Linked DNA regions of Homo sapiens. The protein of the gene in region 1 purifies or fractionates together with the protein of each later gene. This does not show direct contact. Each region holds a gene or a part of one and is shown on either strand. Other genes may lie near its edges. The genes, in order: SLC9B2, ABCB1, RP2, ALDH18A1, DHX37, DDX47 and ENPP1.

Region 1 (4,223 bases):
GTTTTATGTTTGTTTTTTACTTGTTGCAACCTCAAATGACCAAATGGTATGATGCACACTGAGATACTCAATAAATGTGCAGTGATTCTTAGCCTTTTTTCCTAGAACTTTAATATTAACATGGAAAATTCTGAAATGGACAACAAAAAGATAACACTTTGTGTATGGGGAAGAATATCATGCAGTTGATGACGGTACATTAAAATTCACACAAAAGGACATTTTGACTAGCATTCAGAAAGAGTCCATTGATTATAAGATTATCTATGAGGTTTTGGACCGGGCACTACACTACCGAATTATGGCTAACTTTGGTTTGTGATCTAGACCAAGTCACCCAATCTATCTTGGATTTTAGTTTTCTGGTTTATGAAATTAAGGAGTTAAGCTAAATGACTTGGGTTTCTTTTCGTGTATCATAATCAAAATGCTGTAACTTCTCTAGTGAATTCATAGAACACTGACTCTTACAAGTATGTCATGAAATACTTTATGCTGTGAGCAGGTATACATGTATAATATATGTATAGCTATGAACAAATAAATTTTAAATAAATGCACAACGAATTCTACAAAATGGGCTCCAACATTAACAAATGATCTGAGTTAGTCTTTCTCACAGCCGACCATAAACTATAAAACATTTTTATAAACACTATCAGCAATAAAAACGAAGTAAAATCTAGCCAAAAAATTCAATGTTCTCCAAAGTCATGTTAATCAAATCAGGTGATATATTAATGAAGTACATATGACTAAAAGGAAAAATATATGTCATTCCTGTGGTAAGAGGAAGCTGAATGTCACTAGAAATTTTTACAAGCTTTAGGAGAGGAAGAGTTCCGTTTAGGAAAATAATCATTTCAGATGATCTGAAGAAGGGTATTGGATGGAACCTATCCAATAGGTTCATCACAAAAGAGGACCTGAGAGACAAGAATGAATGGTTTCTGACTGGTGGAGAAATTTGAGGATAATCTCCCTTGCTTGAAAAGCGGTGATTAAGATTGGCACTTGCTTACAGGAGTGAAAAACAGGTAAGGGGTGCGCGCGTCTTAACACACACAAGAGGAAATACAGAGAAAAGGAAGACACAAACATGAAATGAGAATTAAATGAAATAGAATCACACTGCTGATAGAAGGGTTAAAAATCTAAAATACAACAAGAAGGGCAGGTGTTAAGCGATAAAGGGGGGCAGAACAAGTCTTTTATCCGGCCATTTAATTGGTCACCTTAAGAAAGAATCCTATCTTCCCACCGCAGCTGAGAAGACACTTCTAAGAGGTACAGCTAAAAGGTGGAGGACTGATAGACAACTTAGAGGTTGGTTTCGGGAACGATAAAACAAGTAACGGGCTGCCCGGCCTGCGCCGCGGAGTCCCGAGGAGCCTGCGCTGTGCTCCTCTCGCGGTGTCTCGTCATCTCCGGGAAGACTCGGCGCCTGGGTCCGCGCTCTCTGGGTAAGCTTTCCGGGAAGCTTTCCCGGGAGCTCGCTGGTCCTGGCCCCAGAAGCCTGCGGACCCGCCCAGGGAGGATAAGCAGCTGAAAGACCGCGCGGTGCCGCTCCGAGGCCCCGGGACGTGGGCCCATGGTCGGCCTGGCGCCACCTTTCCGGGGGAAGCCACGCGCACCAGGCATCGCACGCGGCTCTGCACCCGCGCCGCCGGACCTGAAACCCGGCGGAGGGCACACGGGGCTGCCGCTGCGGGCCCCGGACCAACCCATGCTTACTCCGGAGCCTGTACCGGCGCCGACGGGTCGGACCTCCCTGCGCGGTGTCGCCCAGCGGGTTCGTGCGAAAGGCGGGGCCGACTACACGCGGTGCCGCGCCCTGAGACCGTTTATCTGCAGTCAACGCAGCCTCCCGGCTCAGCCTGGGAAGATGCGCGAATCGGGAACCCCAGAGCGCGGTGGCTAGACCGGGCTCCGCCGCCTCCCCCACAGCCCCTTTCCTAATCGTTCAGACGGAGCCTGGTCGACTTCGCCGGAGACTGCCAGGTGAGAGGCCCCAGAGACACTAAGGGTAAAAATAAACCCAGCGCCAGCGGCGGGTACCCTGTAGGCCTGCTGGACCGGAGACGCGAGCGAGGGGCCCAGCCTTTTCTGTTTGTACACCCGGTGACGGGCGCGTGTCTGTTTACTGTTGTAAGGTGTTGGCGTGGGTTTTCTTGCTTGCTTTTATTTTAGTTCTCAGATTAACCAGAGGGGGTGTTGCCTTTGTGGACTGGGTTAGCATCCTCGAGGTGCTAAGAATCATCGTATGCTATTGACTGAAGAATATAACCTTAAGACAGCAGTAGCTGCTGTAAGAGATAAAGTAAAACATCTCAGTAACTAAACATAGTTCAGGCTTATTTCTCGTTCATGTCAAGTCCATTCACGTGTTCAGCTGTTGGCCTTCTACTCAATTATTCAGGAACCCAAACTCCTTTTATATTATGGCTTTGCTATCCCCTAAGACCTTGGAGTCCTTAGTTTCCAGGCAACGGACAGAAAAAGAAAAGCTACTAGAGGATTGCATGAGGATTGTTTCTTATGGGTGAGGACTGGAAATCACATACTATTTATGTCCACATGCCATTGACCAGACTTCAGTCACATGCCACACTGACCTGCAAGGGAGACTGGAAATGTACTATGGACCCAGGCAGAAGAGTAAACGATTTTGGTAAACACATATCAGTCTCTGACCATCCCTTAAAGGGCAGACTGCATCTTAGTCATCTTTGTTACTCTTGTGCCTATCACACCAGAGAAACTTGTTAAGGCTTTGTGAGGCCGAGGTGGGCATATCACCTGAGGTCAGGAGTTCGAGACCAGCCTAGCCAACATGGTAAAACCCCATCTCTACTAAAAATATAAAAATTAGCTGGGCATGGTGGTGCACGCCCGTAATTCCAGCTATTCCGGAGGCTGAGGCTGAAGAATCGCTTGAACCCAGGAGGCACAGGTTGCAGTGAGCCAAGATTGTGCCACTGCACTCCAGCCTAGGTGACAGAGCAAGACTCCATCTCAGAAAAGAAAAAAAAGGAAATGAAACTTGTTAAGGGATGGGGTTGTTATGTGTCTAAAGTTGAAACTTAACCATATTTCATTGTGATTGCTTAGGAATCATTTATCATCCTTTATCATCCTGTAACTAGATTACAAGATCTGAATATAGGAACTATTTAAGACCGTTCACTTCTGAATCCTCAGCTCAAGGACTGGGACGTAACAAGAGCTTAATAGCTCTTGTTTGTTGAATGAATGAATGAATCATCAGAGAGGAAAACGAGGGAGACAGTTTGTCAATGTTGGAGTTAGGAAATACTGAGAAGGTGACATTTGAGTTAGATTTTGAATTTCTTCAAGTAGAAAAAGCAGAAATGAAACTCCAGGCAGCAATAGTAGTGATATTTTATTGTTGTTGTTTTGTTTCATGAGTGGAAATTTGGAAAACAACCAAACGTTTATAAGTCCAACTTTTCTTCATTCAGTATTCAAATATTACAATTTAACTTCAGGGTAGAGGAGGGGAAATACATAATCTTACAATCCAAATAATTTCTGTTGACTAAAAGAATGGCAGTGAAAACCTTGGCACTAATTTTTAACTTTATAAAATGTTATTTTCTGGACATTTTTGAGAAATTTCAATACAAAGGCAGTGTTCTGATCATTCATTGTCTATGATGATTTTGCACTGTAACAAGAAGCTAGAAAGATAGAAACTAAAGTTTGTAAGACAGAGGTTCCTCATCACTGCTGTTCATCAGGGCTTCTCAGGGATGGTTCTGCAACAAAATCACCTGTTATATTGGTTAGGATGCTTTTGGCTGCAAGTAACAGGATATTCAGCCAAAACTCCCTTCAAAAATACAGATGTACTTTGCTCATACATGAAGATGTTTGAAGGTAGGTGGGTCCAGGGTTTGTTCAGTAGCTCAGTAATATCAGGGCTCTATGTTGCTTTCTGTGTTCAGCTAATCTTGACTTTTCTTCATGGGTGAATGATGGCTGCTAGAATTGTCCCAAGAAACCCATCCACAATCCCAACTTCCCTTGCCTCTTTACCTGGTCATTTAAAGACAAAAAGAGGAGAGGATTTTCCTCCTCTCTCTCTGTCTTTATTAAGAAGGAAAATCTTATGTAATATGCCCCAATAGTCTTGCCTACAAATTCCAATGGCAAGAAATGAATCATGCTCACTCCTTAGCCAATAAGTGGCAAAGAGGAAT
Region 2 (3,500 bases), on another chromosome or scaffold:
TTCTGCCACTGTCTCAAACCCAGGATAGCCTGCTGGAGGATGAGGCACACATGGAGGAGAGCTGTCTGAATCCCAACCAACCAGCTACAGACACAATCCACTACAGACACATGAGTAAGTCCAGCCGAGATCCACTATGCCTAATCCAGATCAGTAGAACTTCACAGCTAACCCATAGGTTTGTGGGCAAAAATATGTATGTCTCTGAGGTTTAGTGGCTGGTTGTTACACAGCATTATTGTGGTAATCAACAACGGATACAGTCAGTGATGTTGGAATTACATCAGATTCTTAAAAACCTATGAATTGTGCAACCAAAAGAAAGTTTCTTACAGAGCCAGATATCATGTTGCTCTTAAGATGCATTGACGTTCTTATCTATGACATGGGAATCACAGCAACTTAAAGTTGGGAAGGACCTTACAGGTATCAAGTCCAGCTCTCCATGTTCGTGCCTGGACACCTCCCCTAAATTGGCTTCCATCCTCTGTTTTAGGAAGTAGCATGTTTGATTGTCTATTGTTAAACAGTTCTTTTTCAAACTGAAGAAAAAATTTACTTCCTTTTACATAAGACAGGCCTACAAGTCTTGAAATATTGCTAAAAACTCCTTTGCTTCTTTGATAACTCCTTTCACTGCCCTTCTCTAGACACATTTATTAATATGCTTTTTTTAAACACAAGCCTGGAACAGACATAATACTTGGGAACCCGCCCAGAATACAGGGAATTCATCGCTTTCTTTCCTCTGGACTCTATGCCTATGTTTGTGTAGCATATTGTGTCATTAGTTTTTGTTTGTTTGTTTGTTTAACTAGCACTAAATAAAATACCGATAGTTAATCTTGGACTTGTGATCATTTAAACCTATGGGACCTTTTTCTAATGCACTGTTCTTCAGACAGGTCTTCCTTTTCCTTAACTTGGAAGGTTGATTTTGCAAACCTAAATGCCCCAATGTCAGCAACTTTCATCAATTCAATTTTTTGGAGTAAAGCAATATATCAAATAATTATCTAATCAAAGCCCCAATGCCAGTGATACTTGGTTTTGATCTCTAGGCCATAATCACAAATAGCACCTGCATATCATTTGTCCAATGTACATCTTTAATGGAAATTTAGATGTCTTTTTGGGGGTCATCCTGAGCAAACTGTAATGCATGAACAACTCAATGTTTAAAAAGGACAGAAATACTATACTAACACATTATACTGCCAGGCTTATATGATTCTGGTTTAAATATAAAATTATATCGCTACTAATTATGTTATGCTATCAAGAGGCAGAATCTTACCCACCTCCAAATCTAGAAGCTCAGAAAGATTACACATACTTTTGACCACCAAATTGCATATTTGGGTACTTTTGTAGTATAATTGCTTCAGGCTTATCTTCCTCTGACCGAGGTACAATTATCTACATTCAGAACAATGTAGCAGAAAAATCCCAATATAACTTTTCCTTTGTCATTTCTGAATTCATTTGGCTCTTACCTTCCAATTCCTCTCTTATCAAGGGAAAGTAAACATATCCTGGAATTGCCAAAGGCTTGCAGAACTTAGTACAACACATCTGTATTTTACTTGCTCTGTAAGAAAGTCCTTTAAAAGGAGCCAGTCAGACTCCTTGCTCAGGGCTAGGCTTCTTCCCAAATGCCAAGGCCTTCTCAAAATCTCCGAATGGAATCACTCCACTCAGTCACAGATTTGAAAAGGTCAACTATGTGTGAGCCAGCAATGAGGAAAGAAGTTACTGCTCCTCCAAATGAAAGGGGGTGCTTCAATGGTGGCACATGAAGACTCAGAGGCAGAAATGCCGATTTAGGAATCACCAGAATCTCTTCATGAGGCTTCACAGTAGGGTTTCCTATCTAGACATGAAGCATGTTCATCCCAGCTTTATTTTTAGAGCTTAACTAAATAATAGCCCAATACTTACAACAGAACATCCTCAAAGCTCATGAGTTTATGTGCCACCAAGTAGGCTCCAAACCGGAAACATCCAGCATAGGAAAAATACATCATTGCCTGGGTGAAGGAAAATGTAATTCCAAAGATGTGTGCTTTCCTCAAAGAGTTTCTGAAAAGAAGACATTTGAAAACTCATTCCACTTTCATTTCTCAGTCCTTAAAATGTAACTTTTGATAGGTTGGCAGTAGGGCACAGAGGCATGACCAACAAAAATGGGTTTCGTTTCCAAAGAACTAAGTTTGGTCCTCACTTTACACTTAACAGTTGTGCAAATTTGGGAAACTGCCTAACCTCTGAGACTCAGTGTCTTTATCTTTAATGTAGAATTAACTACACCTCAAAGTGTTGATGTAAAGAGAAAATAATCCAATGACTGTAAAGAGCCGGTTAGGGATCAATAAGTAAAAGTTATCTCCCTTTCTCCCCACTTTTGGACACACAGTATGGAAGTACTCTACGTAAATATTCATTCTGCACACAGTTACCCAACACCTACAAGGTGCAGGGGCCATGATGGGTTGACATAGAGGAAACAGGCATGTTCTTGACTTAGGAGACCTGACTTGAGTTGAATTACTATTTATGCATTAGAGGTGCCTTATGAATAATCTGTTATAGGAAGAAAGGAGAAGCACTAAATTCTTCGGGGGTCTCAGAGAAGGCTTTAAAAAGGGGTTGACATTCTAGAATCATGATATGGATCCAGCTCAGTGATATGGAGGTGTGGGTGGGGGCAGGTTAGCAAGTGGGCAGCCCTGGGCTTCCAACCCCTCCTGCTACCAGATCAACTCTGCTTTTACCTTCATCACATATGAAGATTTCAAATAATTTTTTTTTAGACAAAAAGGCTCTACCATCATTTTTTTTAAATAAAAGCTTAAAAATCCATCAATAAAGTCCAGCTTTCCTTTTATTATAAGAAACAGACTCAGAAAGGTTGGGCTTGCTTATGTTCACACCACTTATTAGAGCCCTCACTGGGATGACTGTATTAAAGGAAGAAGGTCTGCACTGGAGAAGGGGTAAAAAGCAGAAAGACAGGTAAACCCAGGAAGCACCATCCTCTCTGTGTCCCACAGGTACCTCAAATTTCAGGTTCCATAAATAACTCATTTTCAACTAGAGCAAATTATAGGGTCATATCCTACCTGGACATCAGATAGTCATTCTCAGCATCATGTCTCCCTCCCTTCTCATCAGTGACCCATTCTTACAGGTTCTACCTCAGAGATGTCCCTGCCTTAGTTCAGGGTCTTGTACTTTCTCTCCTGCATAATTACAACTGTTTCTCAATGGTTTACCTTCGAGCACTTTCTCCACTTGCTCCCTACCTTCTAGCCAAAGTAATCCCTCTGAAAACAAATATGATGATTGAAAAATTATTCACACTCTCCTCCCACTCTTCAGCGGTTATTACCTGTATGGTACCTGCAAACTCTGAGCATACATATGTTCAAACTTCTGCTCCTGAGTCAAAGAAACAACGGTTCGGAAGTTTTCTATTGCTTCAGTAGCGATCTGTAACA
Region 3 (3,500 bases), on another chromosome or scaffold:
AATTTTTTTTGGCAGGAATACATAGATGGTACTGTTTCCTGTTGCATTAATTGAGAAGGCACATAATGTTTGATTGTTGTACTTTTAGGGATACTAAGATTTAATGGTTGGGTTTACACGGTGACGACCTTCTCTTTTTATTGTAGAGTTTCCTGCAGTCTTCTCTGTGGGATGCTAAAACCATTGATGATTGTTGCCTGAACCAATTGTTTTAATAGGCGTTGCAAAATGACTGTTTTCTGTATTTTCTTTCTTTTTTTTTTTTTTTAGCAAACTTACTTTTTAATCTTGTCACTACCTCTGCATTTATTAACAGATGTTAACAGAACTCCTCGTATGCCAGAGCTGTTTGGTTAACTTGAAATATGCTTCATGTCAGAAAAGCAGAATAAATAAAGAGAAAAATAAGCATCAATTTTCAGAGTAGTGAATTGGTGCCCTAGCAACCTCCATTGGTATACAGTGAATTTTGTTTCTCTCTTCTTTTTTTATTTTCCTTAAAAATATCTGGTAGTAAGGAGGATCTCTCTAAGTATCATTATGAACTCATGACTTTTTATATATTAATTTTAATAAATCAGAGTCATTATTCCTTCTGTTTCACTATGTCTCATCTTTGGCCATTGGGAGCCCCTTCAGGCTGGCTTCTGTCTCCTTTTGATAGAACCCCACTGGCCTTTGATAGCTTCATTACTTTTTGGCTGAAGAAAATATTCCACATTGACCTTAATCCATTTCTTGCCCCAGACATGGAATCATCTATTTTTCTAAGATTACTTAGTTATTTTTAGTGGGGAATGATATTTAGAAATACATGTTAGGTGCTATGTATTACTGGGTTGTCATTTCTTTTAAGCTTTTTCAGTGGACATAGCTAGAAACTATGTATTTTTAAAAAGGAAAAGATCATGAGTTTACATTGATATTTCTAAATAAAAATTTAAGATTTTAAGCTTTTCTTTTGTAAGGTTAGATGTTTTATTACAATATGTTCTTGAACTCCTGGCCAGGGCTGAAGGCAAGAGGATTGCTTGAGGCCAAGAGTTTGAGACCAGACTGAGCAACATAGTGAGACCCCATATCTATTTTTTTTTTGAGACATGGTCTCGCTCTGTTGTCCAGGCTAGAGTGCAGTGGCTTGATCATGGCTTGCTATAACCTCAAACTCCTGGGGTCAAGTGATCTTTCCATCTCAGTCCCTCGAGTAGCTGGGACTACAGGCCTGTGACCCTGCACCCAGCTAATTTTTTAATTTTTTGTAGAGACGGGGTCTTGCTTTGTTGCCTAGGCTGGTCTTCAACTCCAGGGCTTGTGATCCTCCTGCCTAGGCCTCCCAAAATTCTACGATTACAAGCATGAACCACTGTGCCCAGCCGTGAGATTCTATCTCTAAAAGAAATTTTAATACATTTTTAATAAAGTATACAGGAGGATGTGCATAAGTTATATGCAAATACTATACCATTTTATTAATATATAAGGGATTTGAGCAACAAATGGAACCAATCCTTGCAGATACCTAGGGACCACTATATCCTGCCTTTTCTGTATTTGTTGCCTGTATTATATCACAAGCCTCCAAGAAAAAAAAAATCACAAGCCTTCAGTTATCTTGATGCCCAATGTAGTGTAACCTTTTCTTTCTCATTCTTGTACCTTGTACTGCAGCACACGGTTACATTCAATTTAGTGTTTCATATTCATTCACTCTAGTATTTCATTACTTCGTACTTCATTATTCTGTGTTGGTTTGTATTTGTTTAATGGGTTTATGTCTTCTTTCAATACATTTGTAATTTCCTGGAGATCAAGACTTTTCCATCACTGTAGGAGGTTTTTAATGTTTTCAAATTAATGTATGAGAAAGGAGGCACAGATATTCTATTAAAAGGATTAAAAAATAAAAACTTTGTCTATGTTTCTAGAATGTAGCTTTAAGACACACTCAAGGAAAATACTTTCAGATGGTCATCACTTTTGGTGCCTGGCCTCAATTCTTATTTGGCTTAGCTTCATTATTGGTGGCCTAGAACTTGGCTGGTAAGTAGGAGAGTTGGAAGCAAGGCTGGCTGCCTGGCAAAACCTACTTATGTTGACTTGGATTGCTTTTGATCTTATTTGCTATTTTATCAACTATTTTTATACTCCTAAATGAGTAGAATTTCTGTGGTTTTTATAGAAGAATGAGAACCAGAAAAGCCAGACTATTTACAACACTTTAAAAATGTGACACTAGTCCTATAATAGTACTGAAGCTACTTGTTATGAGACTGTGTTAATTTGTTTTATGATTAGCGTAGGAAGAAGCAGCTGAGGTGATATGTCCCATCTGTCTGCTTTCCTCTTCCTTCTCTTTCACCCTCAAAGAAGATGCTGGAGATTCTTCAGGGAAGAATAAAAAGATTAAATTTAGAATATATTTGTATTTGTGTTAAGAAAATGTTTCTTGGGTTTGCTTATAGGTCCTGTTATTGCCTTGGAGTTTAATGGGGATGGTGCTGTAGAAGTATGTCAACTTATTGTAAACGAGATATTCAATGGGACCAAGGTACAAGATTTTATTGACTGTATTTCAATCTAACTTTTCATTTCATCTCCTTTTCCTTACAGTCAAATAATACTTTAATACTTTTGTCCCTAATGTTGCTTGGAATTTTTGGGGTGTGTGTGTGTGTGTGTGTGTGTGTGTGTTTAAAGCAGATCATGATTTTTAGAACCTTTGATAAATAATTGGGAACTAAGCTGTGATTTTTTTCTTGCCAAACTAAACTTTAATTGTTTAAAATAATTACAAAATAAGAATCTATTTATTAAAAACCTTCTATAGTATATGTTTCTAAAGTAAAAAGTCTCATCAAATGTCTTTTCAAGTCTTTGCATTTTTAAAAATACTGATTTGTTGAAAATATTTTATTTCTAAGATTATAGTCTTTAGATGGACGATTCTGTTGCCCAGGGTTCATTTTTACGCCCAGGGTTCATTTTTACTTGCTTCAGTAATGCTTCACCAAAAATTGAACTTCAGATATACATAGAAATCATCACATGTAGGCCGGGCGCGGTGGCTCACGCCTGTAATCCCAGCACTTTGGGAGGCCGAGGTGGGCGGATCACGAGGTCAGGAGATCGAGACCATCCCGGCTAAAACGGTGAAACCCCGTCTCTACTAAAAATACAAAAAAAAATTAGCCGGGCGTAGTGGCGGGCGCCTGTAGTCCCAGCTGCTTGGGAGGCTGAGGCAGGAGAATGGCGTGAACCCGGGAGGCGGAGCTTGCAGTGAGCCGAGATCCCGCCACTGCACTCCAGCCTGGGCGACAGAGCGAGACTCTGTCTCAAAAAAAAAAAAAAAAGAAATCATCACATGTAGGCATTTTCTAAATATATTGATGAAGTTGCTGTATCTAAGAATTGCAGACATAAATAAATTTAAAACCAAACATAGAGGATTACATTAGCAAATCTATAATTGACTACTTTTTGATAAATACCTGGGAGGACAT
Region 4 (3,500 bases), on another chromosome or scaffold:
CCCATCTTCTAAGGAACTTTTAGGCTCTAAGTTCCAAAGAAAATCTGTCCCCTCTTAGTAGGTATGAGGGCATACTGAAGTGTATGTGTGTACAGATGTGGCATGGTGGGGGATGGGAGGGGTTGTCCATGTTCTTCTTAAGGGCCACGGATTATACTCTTACCACTCTGACAGAGGAGAACCCTTTACTTCTTCAGCATCAGAATCCTTATGCCCAGTAACCAATGAGGCTGTGTTCCAGGCCTCAACAAGAAGGGACCCAGACATGACTACTCTTTTTCTCTCTGGCCTTCCATTGCCTTCTCTGTTTATCTCCACAAGCGTTCTCATTTTGCCTTTCTTTTCTTTTTTTTTCCCTCTGCTATTCTGCTTATCATGGTCAGTGAAAGAGCTCCACGTTCCAGAAAAATCCAAATCCCCAAATTCAAAAACCTAGGGAAACAATTAGAAAGTGCCTCCTTCTGTGAATGAGTCTAATGAGGATAAGTATCAATAAAAATACTGAAGTGAACACTTACTATATACCAGGAGTTGTGCTAAGTATTCATACACCTTCTACAGGAGTAAAAAGGACAAGTGTTGGCTCTGGAGCCAGACTGCCTGAGTGAAATTTCAACCCCTTCACTTACTTGCTGTCTCCTTAACTATCTCATAAGGTTGGTAGGGTGGATAAAACAAGTTCATGCATGAACAGAGATTGGCACAAAATACTCAATGAATATTAACTGGTACTGTAAAAAAAGTGTTACTTACTGTGACATGACATATATATCCATGGTCCCTGGCTTATAACTCTAATAATCCTTTTTACAGTCTTTTGTTATAATGTTGGTGTAAGGAAACAGAATCTCTCTGGTATTCTCCTGAACTCCTTTCACCTACTCAAGGCAGGACTCTAATTTGATTGTGGGTTGTAAGACCCTCAGTCCAGAGAGGGTCCTGCCCCATACCTTGGAGGAAGAAATATTGCACAGGAAGACCAAGACAAAATCTGAACAGACAGGCCTTGCTGGGTTACCCCACTCAGTCTATTAGTATCAGGTCACATTCTTTTTGTTCAATCACATTTCGACACAGTTGCCCATGCTTCAATCATGCCTATCCAATAAGTCTCCATAAGAGGTCCAAGGGGACAAGGTTCGGAGAGCTTCCAGATGGCTGAACATGTGGAGGTTCCTGGAGGGTGGCGTGCCCCGGAAGGGCATGGAAGATCTGTGCCTCTTACCACACACCTCACCCTACATATCTCTTCATCTGTTTCCTTTGTAATAAATTGGTAAATCTAAGTGTTTCCCTGAGTTCTCTGCATCACTCTAGCAAATCAATCAAGCCCAAAGAGGGTACTGTGGGAACCCCAACTTGAAGCCAGTCAGTCAGAAGTTCCAGAAGCCTGGACTCAGGACTACTAGGAAGATGGGGATGATCTTGAGGGACTGAGCCCTCAACCTGTGGGCTGTCCTCAGGGAGACAGTGTCAGAATTGAATTGGAGGATACCCAACTGATGTCCACTGCAACCCCGTACATTTGGTCACAGAAGTCTTCTGTGTTGATTGTTGTTATGGAGTGAGAGCAGAGGAAAAATAGTTTGAGCTTTTCCATATTCTACCTTCATCATCATCATCATCATCATCATCATCATCATCATCATCATCTTACTGAATTCTCATGAATTAAGCCTCATAAGTTAGGTATTATTATGAGTTCATTATTATTATTATCCCCATTTTATAAATAAGGAAACTGATGCTCAGAGTAACTGAGTAATTTACCAGCATTGCCAGATTACAAAAATGGCCACAATCCTTTTGCAGCTTCTCCATTAACAGGTGAGTCAATCTTCCAAACTTCTTAAATTTGAGCTGGCCCCGTAACTTGCTTTGACAAATGTGGCAGAAGGAACAGTGCATAAATTCTGAGTTTACATCTCAAGAGGACTTGTAGCTACCATGCTTCCTGTTCTGGGGACCCTGCAAGCATCATGCAAAGCAGCAATGAACAGCCTGCTGGAGAATGAGAAGCCACAGGGAATGTACATGATGTATCATCCCAGCAGAGGCCCCTTCATCCCCAACAATCAGCCCTAAGTCAATCTGAGACCTGACACAGACACAGAACCACTGTGCAGCTGAGCCCAGTCCAAAATACCATCCCACAGAATTGTGACCTAAACAGACAGTTGTTTTAAGCTACGAAGTTACTTCATAAGCAGAAGGGCTAGTTTTAAAAACCCAGGAACTGGTTCCAAAACCTGAACTTTCAGCCCTTATACTCTACATTAATAGGAAAGAGATTTTTCTGTCTAATGACAAGCTTGATTAGTTGATTGGCAAGTCATCTTGCAATGAAGCTTGGAAATGGACTACTGATAAGATTTAGGTGATATCAAGGAGCTAGCCAACTCAAAACATCACAAACAGCCTTTCAACAAATGATGCTGGAACAACTAGTATTAAAAGTTGAAAGATGAACATTGACCTAAACCTCACACCTTATACAAAAATTAACTCAAAATAGATCACGAAGTTGGGTGCAGTGGCTCACACCTGTAATTCCTGCAGGTTGGGAGGTCAAGGTGGGAGGATCTTTTGAGCCCAGAAGTTCGAGACCAGCCAGAGCAACATAGACTCCATTTTTACAGATTTTTTTTTTTTTTTTTTTTTGAAACGGAGTCTCACTCTGTCACCCAGGCTAGAGTGCAGTGGCGCTATCTTGGCTCACTGCAAGCTCCTCCTCCCGGGTTAATGCCATTCTCCTGCCTCAGCCTCCCAAGCAGCTGGGACTACAGGCACCTGCCACCACACCCGGCTAATTTTTTGTGTTTTTTAGTACAGACGGGGTTTCACTGTGTTAGTCAGGATGGTCTCGATATCCTGACCTCGTGATCTGCCCACCTCGGCCTCCCAAAGTGCTGGGATTACAGGCGTGAGCCATCAGGCCCAACCAAAAAACTTTTTAAAAAATTAAATGTGCCAAGACTGGGCAACATGGCAAAACCCTGTCTCAACAAAAAATATAAAAATTAGCTGGATATGGTGGTGCACGCCTATAGTCCCAGCTACTTGGGAGGCTGAGGCAGGAGAATCGCTTGAGCCTGGGACGTTGAGGCTGCAGTGAGTAATGATTGCACCACTGCTCTCTAGCCTGGGTGACAGAGTGACACCCTGTCTCAAAAAATAAAAAAAAAAAACAAAGAAAAAAATTAGCCAGCTGTGGTGGTGCAACCCATAGTCCTAGCTACCTGGGAGGCTGACATAGGAGGATCACTTGAGCCCTGGAGGTTGAGGCTGCAGTGAGCCTTGATCGTGCCACTATGCTCTAGCCCTGGGTAACAACAGAGCAAGATCTTGTCTCAAGAAAACAAAAAAAAAATGGATCATGGATTTAAGTATAAAATATAAAACTATCGAACTTTCGGGAAAAAAACATACGAGAAAATCTTCAGAATACGGGGTTATACAAAGAGTTCTTAGACTTGACCCCAAAAGTACAATCCATAAAA
Region 5 (3,500 bases), on another chromosome or scaffold:
TTTCCCAGCGAGCAGAGATGCTACAGAAGCTGAGTGAAGTCCAGGCTTCCGAAGCTGAGATGAGACTCTTTTATACCACTTCCAAGCTAGGCACTGGGAACCGCATGTATCACACCAAAGAGTGAGTTGGCCAGTCCTTTGCTAACCCTGCCCTCCCTCCAGGGCCCCCTAGGGAGGGCGCACAGGTTATGGGGTCCTCTGGGGGTGGAACATTTGAGAAAATACCTTTATGGTGGCCTGAGTGGCTGAAAATTCATTGTCATCCTAAATGCCTCTAGTGGGTAAAGGCCACAGATGCTGCTGAACCTTCTGCGACACACAGGACAGCAAAGTTTCTCGCTCCAGTGATGTCGGTGTTTTCCTGTGGTGTAGAGTCCCTTGTTACAGCTCTTCCAGCTTTTGTGCAGCTGATTAGGCCAGAAATTGCCATTAGGTGGTCAAGGGCTGGATTTGGCCCATCAGCGGGTTTGGTTTGGTTTGTGTCGTGTTTTTTTTTGTTTTTTTTTTTTGAGACAGAGTCTTGCTTTGTCACCCAGGCTGGAGTGCAATGGCGTGATCTCAGCTTACCGCAACCTCCACCTCCCAGGTTCAAGCGATTCTCCTGCCTCAGCCTCCCAAGTAGCTGGGATTACAGGCATGCACCACCAAGCCCGGCTAATTTTGTATTTTTAGTAGAGACGGGGTTTCTCCATGTTGGTCAGGCTGGTCTCGAACTCCCAACCTTGGGTGATCTGCCCGCCTCGGCCTCCCAAAGTGCTGGGATTACAGGCGTGAGCCACCGCGCCCGACTGGTTTGTGTCGTTTTTTAAGGCATGAGTGCTGTTTGCCAATATGTTAGCTTCCTGGCGCTGCCATAACAAATTACTGCAAACAGCGGTGGCTTAGAACAACCAAGCCAGAAGGGTGCCGTGGCTCATACCTGTAATCCTAGCACTTTGGGAGGCCGAGGCGGGTGGATCACCTGAGGTCAGGAGTTTGAGACTAGCATGGCCAACATGGTGAAACCCTGTCTCCACTAAAAATACAAAAATTAGCTGGGCATGGTGGCTCATGCCTGTGGTCTCAGCTACTCTGGCGGCTGAGGTGGGAGGATCACCTGAGCCTGGGAGGTTGAAGCTACAGTGAGCCGTGATTGCACCACTGCACTCCGTCCTGGGCGACAAGGTGAATTCATGTTCCCACCTAGTCTCGACTAGTTGGACGATCCGGCCACACCAGCAGTGTCCCCACCAAGCTGCTGACCCTTAAATGGCCTGTGTGCCCCTCCCACCCAGTCCCACCCCACTCTGTGGTCTCCTCAGCCTGTGCTGCTCATTTACATGAGGCCTGACTGGTGCCTGTGAGCACTGTCAGTTAGTGACTGTTTATCGAGTGCAGAGACTGTCCCAGGCTCTCTGCTAGGCCCTGGGGATAGAGCAGTGCACAGAAATAAAGTCCTTTCTCTTAAGGAGCTTCCCAGTGTCATGGCGGGAGATGTAATCGTGGGAAGTCATCAGGCGAGTGCATCTGTGTCCCACGCTGGGAAGCACTGAGCAGAAAATGAAGCAGGGAAGAGCGAGGTGGAGGGAGAAGGGTGAGATGTGGGGTCTGTGTGTGGTCAGGGAGTCTCCCTGACAGCTAGTGCTTAAGCAGAGGCTTAAGTGGAGTGAGAGGAGGTATCTGCAGGAAGGGCATTTCAGGGAGTGGAACAGCAGGTGCAAAGTCCCTGAGGCAGAAAGGGGTATGGCCTTGGAGTCCTGACCTCTGGGATTGAGGTGGGGCCTCTGTGCCTGAAGTCTCTGCTATCTCAACAGGAAGGCTGACGAGGTGGTAGCCCCGGGCCAGGAGAAGATCAGTAGCCTCAGCGGTGCCCACCGGAAGCGTCGCCGCTGGCCCTCAGCTGAGGAGGAGGAGGAGGAGGAGGAGGAGTCGGAATCGGAGCTGGAGGAGGAGTCGGAGCTGGACGAGGACCCAGCTGCTGAGCCGGCTGAGGCTGGTGTGGGGACCACCGTGGCACCTCTGCCGCCAGCTCCAGCACCCAGCAGTCAGCCCGTGCCGGCTGGGATGACTGTTCCTCCTCCTCCAGCTGCAGCCCCACCACTGCCCAGGGCCCTGGCTAAGCCCGCCGTCTTCATCCCCGTGAACCGCTCCCCGGAAATGCAGGTTCGCCACCCCGTGTTTGTGATTAAGAATCTAGGTTAGCGGGCAAGGGGCGCACAGAGGGCGTCCTGGTGAAGTGGGGCAAGGGCATCCCTTCTCTGTGCCTCCATGTCCCCATCTGGGAAAGGGGAGAGTGACTGCGCCTCCCTTGAGGCTGTGGCAGGGATTGGTGCGCGAGGAGGATCACAGTGCAGGGCGGGTGTCTGGCGGCACGCCTGGCAGGCTCGGGGCCCTGGAGGTCGGCGGCAGTAGCTTCATCGCCACTGCCCTCTGACCAGCGGGCCTGGCCTGGGCTGCCCCGATCCAGACAAGAGTTTGGGCTGTGAATCAGTTGACCCGAAATCAAGTGCTGATTCCCCTGCTCTCCAGCTCACTTCCCGCGCATCTGTAAAATGGGAATATTCCGGCTACTGAAGGGGCTCCCCCTCTCTGTGCCTGTTTCCTTCCTGGTACAATGAGTGTCTCACTGGGTTGTGATGACAATGAAAGGATTTGGGGCATGGAAAGCCCACAGCCCACGTAGGAACTCTGGATCCCTAGAGGAGTAATGTTGGCCGTTGAATGGAATTGGGATCCTGCTTCTAAGTACATTTTTCTGCTTTTATAAGTCTTCATCAGGGTAAGCTGACCGCTCTAGCAAATGACCCCAAAGTGCCAGTGGCTTCACACCACAAACGTTTGCTTCTAGGTGATGTCATCACCCAGTGCCATCTGGTGGCAAGGAGGGTGTGGGGTTCTGCTCCGCGCGGTCACTCAGGGGCTTGGCCTCCTCCATCCCGTGTCCCTGCCATCCCTTGGGACTTCAGTTCCTGCTTTTCTTTGTGAATTTTTCCCTATTCGTATCCTGTCCATATTCCTAAGCAATACATACCGTAGGTTTGCCTGTATTTAAAAGTGGCATCATGTCCTTTACGTTATTCCAGTTTGCTTTTTTGTTACTCAGCATTATATCTTGGGATACATCCATGTTGATGCAGGCAGCTGAGGCTCATTTACTTTTTCCCCACTGCTATCGAGTATTCACGGTGTGAATATAGCGCAGGATGAGTATTCTGTTGCTGGATAGTTGGTTGTTTTAGCTTTTTGCTGTTATCTTCACTGCTGTTTTTGTTGTTTGTTCGTTTGAAACAGGGTCTCACTCTGTCACCCAGGCTAAAGTGCAGAGGTTTGATCTCAGCTGACTGCAACCTCCGCCTCCGAGGCTCAAGTGACCCTCCTGCCTCACCCTCCCAAAGAGCCTGGGACTGTGGGCACACGCTACTACGCTTGGCTAACTTTGTATTTTTTTTGTAGAGACGGGGTTTTGCCATGTTGCCCAGGCTGGTCTTGAACTCCCAAGCTCAGGCAACTCCCAAACTCAG
Region 6 (4,073 bases), on another chromosome or scaffold:
CTGCATTTTTCCCCCGTTCCTTTTTTGTATCAGTGGTACACCAATAATATGCCCTAAACATACAGCCTAGAAACTTAGATTTTCCCCACCCCTTCCTTGCCTTCCACTTGCTTAACTGGTTGTAAAATCATAATGATTCTTTTTCCAACATTTTCTTTTTCATTCTACCACCACCCTACCCATTATTGATTGCAAAAATCATTACAAAGACCTACTAATTGGTTTCCCAGACTCAGTCTCTTGTTTCTAATGATCTTTCACAGCTATGAGATTAATCTTCCAAGAGTACAACTCTAAATCCTTCATCTCCAAAAATGCCCCACTGCCTATGAAACGAAGACCAAATTCCTTGACCCAGCACTCAAATCCTTCATAATCCGGCCCCAATCACCTTACTAAACTTTTTCACCACTCTGCTAAGTACTTGCAAATCTCCATACATGCCCATGTTTTCCAGTTGGCTTTTTTTCATGCTGTTCCCTATGCCTAGAAAGTCCTCCCCTCCCATCATATCTGAATGTCTAAATCCTTCTAAAGTCAGTGTTCAAGGTTCAGCTCACATGTCTTCCCAACCTCCCCAGCCAAAAATAAAATGAAATAAATCTTCTCTAATCCATCCTAATTAGAAGTAATCTCTTCTCCCTCAGTGCACTCTGAATGTAACTTTCTTAGGTCCCTGTTCAACTTGTAATAAATTTATAATTATCTCTTTAATAGATTATAGACTCTTGGAGAGGACAGACTGTTAACCTCCAGTGCCTTACATTTACAACAAATAGTAACTATTTATGGAAAGAGCAAATGGAATTTTGTAGAGTAAGTCTAACCCCTTTTCCACATGACAGCTCTTCAAATCATTAAATCTTTCAATTATTATCAATAATAATCACTACATTAATTACTAATGAGTAATAATTATAGCTTACATTAATCACTAATAATATAGTAATACAGTAATAGCTACATTAATACTAACAATAATTAGCCACATTACCCCTCTTATAACAATTGCTATGATTACATTCACTCTCTCTGAGGATCTTAATAGATTTCAGTTAACTAAGACCTCTGGGCCTCTTTTATCACCCACCCTAATCCTGTAAAGTTGGTACTTTAGGAATCTAAGAGCAGGACTTTACTTCTACTCCTATTAAAGTTCATCCTGTTACAGCCAGATGTGGTGGCTCACACCTGTAATCCCAGCACTTTGGGAGGCCAAGGCAGGTAGATCACTTGAGGTCAGGAGTTCGAGACCAGCCTGGCCAACATGCTGAAACCCCATCTCTACTAAAAATACAAAATTAGCCGGACATGGTGATGCGCCTGTAATCCATTACTTGGGAGGCTGAGGCGGGAGAGTTGCTTGAACCTGGAAGGCAGAGGTTGCAGTGAGCCAAGACCGCACCACTGCACTCCAGCCTGGGCGACAGAGCGAAACTCTATCTCAAAAAAAACTCCATCTTAAAAAAAAGATCTCAAAAAGAAAAAAGTTCATCCCATTAGTTTCAGTTCCAGTAGCCATCAATCTGCTTTAACCACTGTTTTACAAATCTGATAAACATGGCTCACAGCAAGAATTCTCAACTCCTCAAGACACACATATGTGTTCCAGGCATCCTTCCCTAAGTGTGCGCCCACTGATGCATAAAGTCTACCAAGATTGTCGTTAATATACTTTAACTTTAACCTAGGGCTTCCTTAAAGTCAGCATCTGTGGCAGAGAACAAACCCTTTCAGCTATTAAGACAGAAAGTAAGCTCAGTAAAATTGGAGAATGACATTTTCAAATACCATTACCCAAACTTTGTACCTTTAGTGACCATATCCTTATTTCACTTGAAGTATGCAAGCAACAGCTTTCAAAAGGGGTATCTAATTGAGATAACTTTATATTAAATCTGTACGAAGTCATACAACCTACCTTGTAAGGCCAAAGGAATAGCTTCAATCTGGATCTTGGTGGGTTTTGTCCATCCCAACTGGTCACAAGCTTCACACAACACATCTGTCACACCCTTGGAATTCAGAAAAATATACCTTAGCCAAGAACAGCACACCCCTACCTCCCTCCTACTTAACTGACTGTCAGACCCATCATGTACAACCATTGTATTTGATTTAAAAGGTATTTACTGTGCATCTCAGAGCCTACTCTTTAACTATACCATGAGACAGTAGCTCAAGACTTAACGAACACTTTCTGCTCACCAAGGCCAAGGCCAGGTGCTTTACATGTATCATCTCATTTAATCGTCACAACAATTCTGCGAGGTAAGTACTTATTACTATCCCCAATTTACAGATGTGGAAAGAGAAACACAGAGAGGTAACAACTTGTCCTCAGTAAGAGACTGTGTCAAAATTCAAATCTGGTTGGTTCATCTGACTCCAAAGCTCCAGTTATAAAGAGACCAATTCCATTCCCCATATGTACAACCTCCTGGATGCACATACAAACGTTGCCACACTAAAGTGGCGAATAGGGCAAATAGGGGGTCTCAGGGCCCAGCAGCCCTCCCACCACCCAAACTCAGAGCACGTCCGAAACCCAGCCCTCTGAAATTCTGGGGAAAACCCAAGCTAGGCCCCAAGATGCTTTTGTACACTATCAGAGCGGGATCTAAGGTACCTGGGGTCTCCCTGAGCCTAGCACCAGAGTACATAAAAGAAGCCAGCGTCATCCATTCTCACCAGGTCTTTAAATGTTTTAGTTTCCTCCTCTTCCACAATCGGCTGGGACGCTTCGGTCGGAGAATCGTGTTCCTCGGGTGCCGCCATCTTGTGTGAGGTCTCCGGAAGTGGGTCTGCGGCGCGCGGGATGCTGGGAAATGTAGTTTTAGTTCTCCCCGGACGACGTGCTCTGCGCGCCCCCTGCGGGCTTGCCGGGGATTGCACCCGTCCGCTAGGCAGGTGGGGCCCAGTGAATATGGGCGCGTAGGCTTGCGGAATAGATCCGAGTGCAGAAGGGGCTGATCACCAGGGACTCCAGTTGACCTTTAGGTCCCTTTTAAAGAGCCTTCCCTACGTGTGTCGCCAGTTATGTTCCCCGCTTTTCTAACCATAGAGTTTGGAACGGATTGATATTACAATACTATTTTTTTATTATGTCATTACTTTATTCAATAATGTTGAGAACCTACCATTTGCTAAGGCTATGCTAGATGGCTGGTGAATAGGACAGCGACCCCTGCCCTCGTGAAGAAAAAGAAGACAGATCATAAATAAGCTATCACAGAGCATTTCAAATTGTGAAAAGTAGCTGGGTGTGCTCACGCCTGTAACCCCAGCACTGTGGGAGGACGAGGCGGGCGGATCACTTGAGCCCAGGAGTTCGAGACCAGCCTGGGCAACGTGGCGAAACCCTGTGTCTGCAAAATGCAAAAATCAGTCAGGCATGCATGGTGGCATGCGCCTGTAATCCCAGCTATTCAGGGGGCTGAGGTTGAGGGATCAGTTGACCCCGGAAGTTGAGGCTGCAGTGAGTGGAGATGGTGCTACTGTACTCCAGCCTGGGCAACAGAGTGAAACCCTGTTCACATAAAAATTACAGAGTAACCTGGGGAGGGTGGGTTGTGGGGATAACTGTGAGATTGGGAAGGCCTCTCTGAGACAGTGATATTTGAGTTAAGACCTCACTGTTGAGCAGGAGAAAACGCTTTAAGATCCCAGGAGATAATCATTCCAGAGTGAGAGAATTCCAAGTACCAAGACTGTGAAGCTACTAAGGCTATTCTGGAAAGCAGCAAATTCAGAGCTGTATGTTGCATGCCCCATGGCCAGCGAGTGCCCTCCTGTGGCCTGTCACTTGGGTCTCACACTGCGCAGGGTGCTCGTTGCAGTTTTATTCCTGAGGATGGGAAGTTGGGGGCAATCTGGTGTCCGTCACTGGGAAAATGCATAGTTAAAATGTGAACATGGTGTCTACAAACATGCCCTTAACAATATGATTAGATCTGAAAAACCTAGTGCTTAGTGAGAAAAGCATAAAATATATCAAGTATATTAAAATATAGGCCCACAGATATCACATTCTGCTAAAACACATCCAACAGAAGATACACTTGAAATATTTT
Region 7 (3,500 bases), on another chromosome or scaffold:
GGACTGCAAGCATGAGCCACCACACCCAGCCTTGGCTCTAATCTTAGTGTGAGGCCAAAAATTCATTGTTCAGCTTTGGCCTTTGAAAGGACTCACAGACAAACGTTGAACCCAACTCTCTTTGAGACATCCCTGAACAAGTACATCATGTTGAAATTGTGATCATATGTCATCATTAAGCATAGCAACATCGCAAACACAAACAAGGCATATTATTCCGATTTCCTATTAATATCTGAATATTAACTTTGAAATATTCACAAGTATTCTAGATATAAATTAGACTAAAAACTCCTTATATGCTTATATTTTGATATTCTATACATCAATTTAAGTAACTAAATTTTTATTCCTGTAAAAGTCAAATGCTGCAATAGTTAATGATGATGTAAAATCTATTCATTTGAAAACATAGACAATTATCAAGAACTTCCAAAAAGTTAAATAAGGAAGCCGAATGAAAGTTAATATAAGTGTTAGCAGACTGTATTAGCTGGATAACTTTAGGAAGCGCATCACATACTTTCTCACCAAAACTGTTTGCAAACAATTATACAATTAGAATACATGATAATTCTAATAATTTGTAGAATTTTTGTGTACTAGTATTCTCAAAGTTAAACCTTTAAGAATGTATTTGGTATTAATTCATTTAATTTAGACCATAAGTCCTATTACATATGAATTATGCCTATATGTGCACAAATTCATTAAAATTATCAAATATAGAGTTAACATTATTTACCTTGAAAACTCTGGTACATTGGCACTATATTTGTAGTAAGCAAAGCTTCAGAATATATTCCACTTGAATTTTTATTTAGTTCTACAAAGAGAAAAGAGGACAACTTTTTCATTCTTCACAAATAACATAGGAAATTATAGTTTCTCATGGTTAGGGGAGCATTTTTAAAAATTAGCTGAGTACCATCTTAAACCTGTAAAACTTTCCCAAGTACAGGGTCAAGGGAAAATGTAATGTGTTTGGTCAAGTCCTTTACAAAAATAAAATATTTAAGAAGTCTTTTCAAGATGAGCATGTCAACGAAACATAAACTTTAATAACAAGAGCCCCAAATTAAACATATTCAAACGTTATTGCCCTCATTTCAACTAAAAGGAATTGTGTTGACAATCTTCTTTCCTTACACTTTTTCACAGTGAAAAGAAAAAAGAGAACATCTGGCTCCAGAACAACACCTGCTACCCAGAAAAAACATCACAGGATGTCTGTCTCGAAACACCATACAAGGCTTCTCTGTATGAATTTGAGGCTTGGACCTGGTCTATTTTTATAATGCAATAGCCAAGTTCTGACTTCAGACACATACTCTGGGAACTGAACTGGATGCTGACGGTAGTTGAGCACCTGGAGCTTTCTGATTTTTGCCTTTTAAGGCTGGCCCCAAAATGGCTTCTCATCAACATACAAATTTGCCATTTCAAAAAATAGAATACTTAGCTTCAAAAAAGCCATTCCCTAGAGATTCTGGATCAGTGAAAAAGCAAGCATATGTAAGCCTCTACCTTTACCTACTTCTCTGACAAACGCATTTTCTTTTTAAACAACAAAGTTATTTATCCTAACAAAGTTATCTTCCTAAGAACCTTGATATATTCTTCCAACTTGATATATATATTCCACCTTCACAATATTCTCAAATTGTTTAAAAGAAATGCAGAAAGGAACCATGAAGTGTTCTGCTTACCATATCTGCACTACATCAACTACCCTCCCAACAAAAAGAAAATTTTATAAAATTCAAGTTTTAGATGATTAAAATTTTTCCCTTGGTAGTTCTAGACCAAATCCACAATTTTTCACCAATAAATAAACAAAGCTATATATATATAGCTATATATATATAAAATAGTAATATATATACTTTATATATATTATATATATAATATATATATAAAATAGGTAATATTTATATATATATAATAGGTAATATATATATTACCCTATAATGTATGGTAGGATTTATAAACAAGAAAGAAAACAAAAAGGAGAAAAGGGAAGGTCAGGAGAGGAAAAAACTTACGTGGTGGGGAGAGGAACCCGTAACTCACTTTGGTGTTATTTTTATAAAATGAACATTTATGGACAGGACTAAGAGGAATTCTAAAGTCCTGGTACAGACAGTTGGAGAAGTCTTCCGTAGAGAAACTGTCCTGAAGAACGAAAATGAGAAGAACTCTCAGATATCAGGCACAGAGAAGAAAATTGCTTTATTAATATTTAAAGGTGAACTACATCATAAAATTATGAAGCTCTAGCTGTCAGCTCATGTCCTTCCCTATTTTCCTACTAGTATATTCATCTTTTTTTCTAACTAAAGTGTAAAAATGCTTTACAATATTAAAGATATTAATTGTCATATTTATGCAAATATTTTCAGATTCTGCTATGCTAATATGAAATAATGTTTAGAATGATTTTATCTACACAATTTTAAATATTTATTTATTTATTTATTTATTTATTATTATTATTTTTTTAAGATGGAGTCTCACTCTGTCACCCAGACTAGAGGGCAGCGGCGCAATCTCGGCTCACCGCAACTCTGCCCCCCAGGTTCAAGCGATTCTCCTGCCTCAGCTTCCCGAGTAGCTGGGACTACAGGCATCTGCCACCACGCCTGGCTAATTTTTGTGTTTTTGGTAGAGATGGGGTTTCACCATGTTGGCAAGGCTGGTCTTGAGCTCCTGACCTCAGGTGATCCATCCGCTGCAGCCCCCTCAAAGTGCTGGGATTACAGGTGTGACCCACCACGCCTGGCTAATTTTTTGTATTTTTAGTAGAGACAGGGTTTCACCATGTTAGCCAGGATGGTCTCGAACTCCTGACCTCGTGATCTGCCCTCCTCAGCCCCCCAAAGTGTTGGGATTACAGGCGTGAGCCACCGCGCTGGTCAATTTTAAGCTTTTATATAGTAAAATGTTGATTTTTAGAGATCTGAGTCTATCTTCCATAGTCAACTACACTGCCAAAAGTTGCTGGAGCAAAGGAGGACAGTCACCGAACAGCAATGTAAAAACCTCAAGCATCGCAATGACTGTAAAGTTATGCATTTTAATTACATAAGAAAACTGAAAATGGAATCAAGGAACCCATAATTAAGGTATAAATATTAATAAATAGGATGGGGTGCCTATGAAAAATGGTGTAGACTGATCAATTACAAAGTCAAAAATTTTTTTAAGTGTTTGGTGTTTGAAGACAGTATTGAAAAATTTTAAAAATCAAAGTTCAAGAAATTTTATATAAATATATGTGTGTATTATATATTTGTAACATAGAAATTATATATAAACAGACATATCCCTATCTTTTTATTTGGTTGTCTCACTGATTAGTAAAAATCATTTTATTTTTTAAATCAAACTGCTGCCCTCCACTATGCTCTCTCAAATCCCTTTGTCGTTCCCTTAGGGCATCCTGTACCTTGCCAGTCACTTTCAGTTTCAGCCCAGTTTAAAATTTCAATTCCACGTAA

What was found.
Region 2: the proteins of SLC9B2 (region 1) and ABCB1 purify together in Homo sapiens (affinity purification with mass spectrometry; one large-scale study listed by BioGRID and IntAct). This does not show direct contact.
Region 3: the proteins of SLC9B2 (region 1) and RP2 purify together in Homo sapiens (affinity purification with mass spectrometry; one large-scale study listed by BioGRID and IntAct). This does not show direct contact.
Region 4: the proteins of SLC9B2 (region 1) and ALDH18A1 purify together in Homo sapiens (affinity purification with mass spectrometry; one large-scale study listed by BioGRID and IntAct). This does not show direct contact.
Region 5: the proteins of SLC9B2 (region 1) and DHX37 purify together in Homo sapiens (affinity purification with mass spectrometry; one large-scale study listed by BioGRID and IntAct). This does not show direct contact.
Region 6: the proteins of SLC9B2 (region 1) and DDX47 purify together in Homo sapiens (affinity purification with mass spectrometry; one large-scale study listed by BioGRID and IntAct). This does not show direct contact.
Region 7: the proteins of SLC9B2 (region 1) and ENPP1 purify together in Homo sapiens (affinity purification with mass spectrometry; one large-scale study listed by BioGRID and IntAct). This does not show direct contact.

Annotation. Positions count from the first base shown.
Region 1 is NC_000004.12:103,073,962-103,078,184, reverse strand, and holds the start of SLC9B2 (sodium/hydrogen exchanger 9B2), read left to right. Parts: upstream 1-1,423; 5' UTR 1,424-2,001; intron 2,002-4,223. UniProt on the Homo sapiens protein: Electroneutral Na(+) Li(+)/H(+) antiporter that extrudes Na(+) or Li(+) in exchange for external protons across the membrane. Uses the proton gradient/membrane potential to extrude sodium.
Region 2 is NC_000007.14:87,517,385-87,520,884, forward strand, and holds part of ABCB1 (ATP-dependent translocase ABCB1), read right to left. Parts: intron 3,493-3,500; coding exon 3,392-3,492; intron 2,083-3,391; coding exon 1,942-2,082; intron 1-1,941. UniProt on the Homo sapiens protein: Translocates drugs and phospholipids across the membrane. Catalyzes the flop of phospholipids from the cytoplasmic to the exoplasmic leaflet of the apical membrane.
Region 3 is NC_000023.11:46,875,043-46,878,542, forward strand, and holds part of RP2 (protein XRP2), read left to right. Parts: intron 1-2,462; coding exon 2,463-2,548; intron 2,549-3,500. UniProt on the Homo sapiens protein: Acts as a GTPase-activating protein (GAP) involved in trafficking between the Golgi and the ciliary membrane.
Region 4 is NC_000010.11:95,646,712-95,650,211, forward strand, and holds part of ALDH18A1 (delta-1-pyrroline-5-carboxylate synthase), read right to left. Parts: intron 1-3,500. UniProt on the Homo sapiens protein: Bifunctional enzyme that converts glutamate to glutamate 5-semialdehyde, an intermediate in the biosynthesis of proline, ornithine and arginine.
Region 5 is NC_000012.12:124,979,132-124,982,631, reverse strand, and holds part of DHX37 (probable ATP-dependent RNA helicase DHX37), read left to right. Parts: intron 1-8; coding exon 9-121; intron 122-1,793; coding exon 1,794-2,142; intron 2,143-3,500. UniProt on the Homo sapiens protein: ATP-binding RNA helicase that plays a role in maturation of the small ribosomal subunit in ribosome biogenesis. Required for the release of the U3 snoRNP from pre-ribosomal particles.
Region 6 is NC_000012.12:12,812,073-12,816,145, reverse strand, and holds the start of DDX47 (probable ATP-dependent RNA helicase DDX47), read right to left. Parts: upstream 2,801-4,073; 5' UTR 2,779-2,800; coding exon 2,692-2,778; intron 2,016-2,691; coding exon 1,922-2,015; intron 1-1,921. UniProt on the Homo sapiens protein: Required for efficient ribosome biogenesis. May have a role in mRNA splicing. Involved in apoptosis.
Region 7 is NC_000006.12:131,881,020-131,884,519, reverse strand, and holds part of ENPP1 (ectonucleotide pyrophosphatase/phosphodiesterase family member 1), read right to left. Parts: intron 2,176-3,500; coding exon 2,046-2,175; intron 827-2,045; coding exon 746-826; intron 1-745. UniProt on the Homo sapiens protein: Nucleotide pyrophosphatase that generates diphosphate (PPi) and functions in bone mineralization and soft tissue calcification by regulating pyrophosphate levels.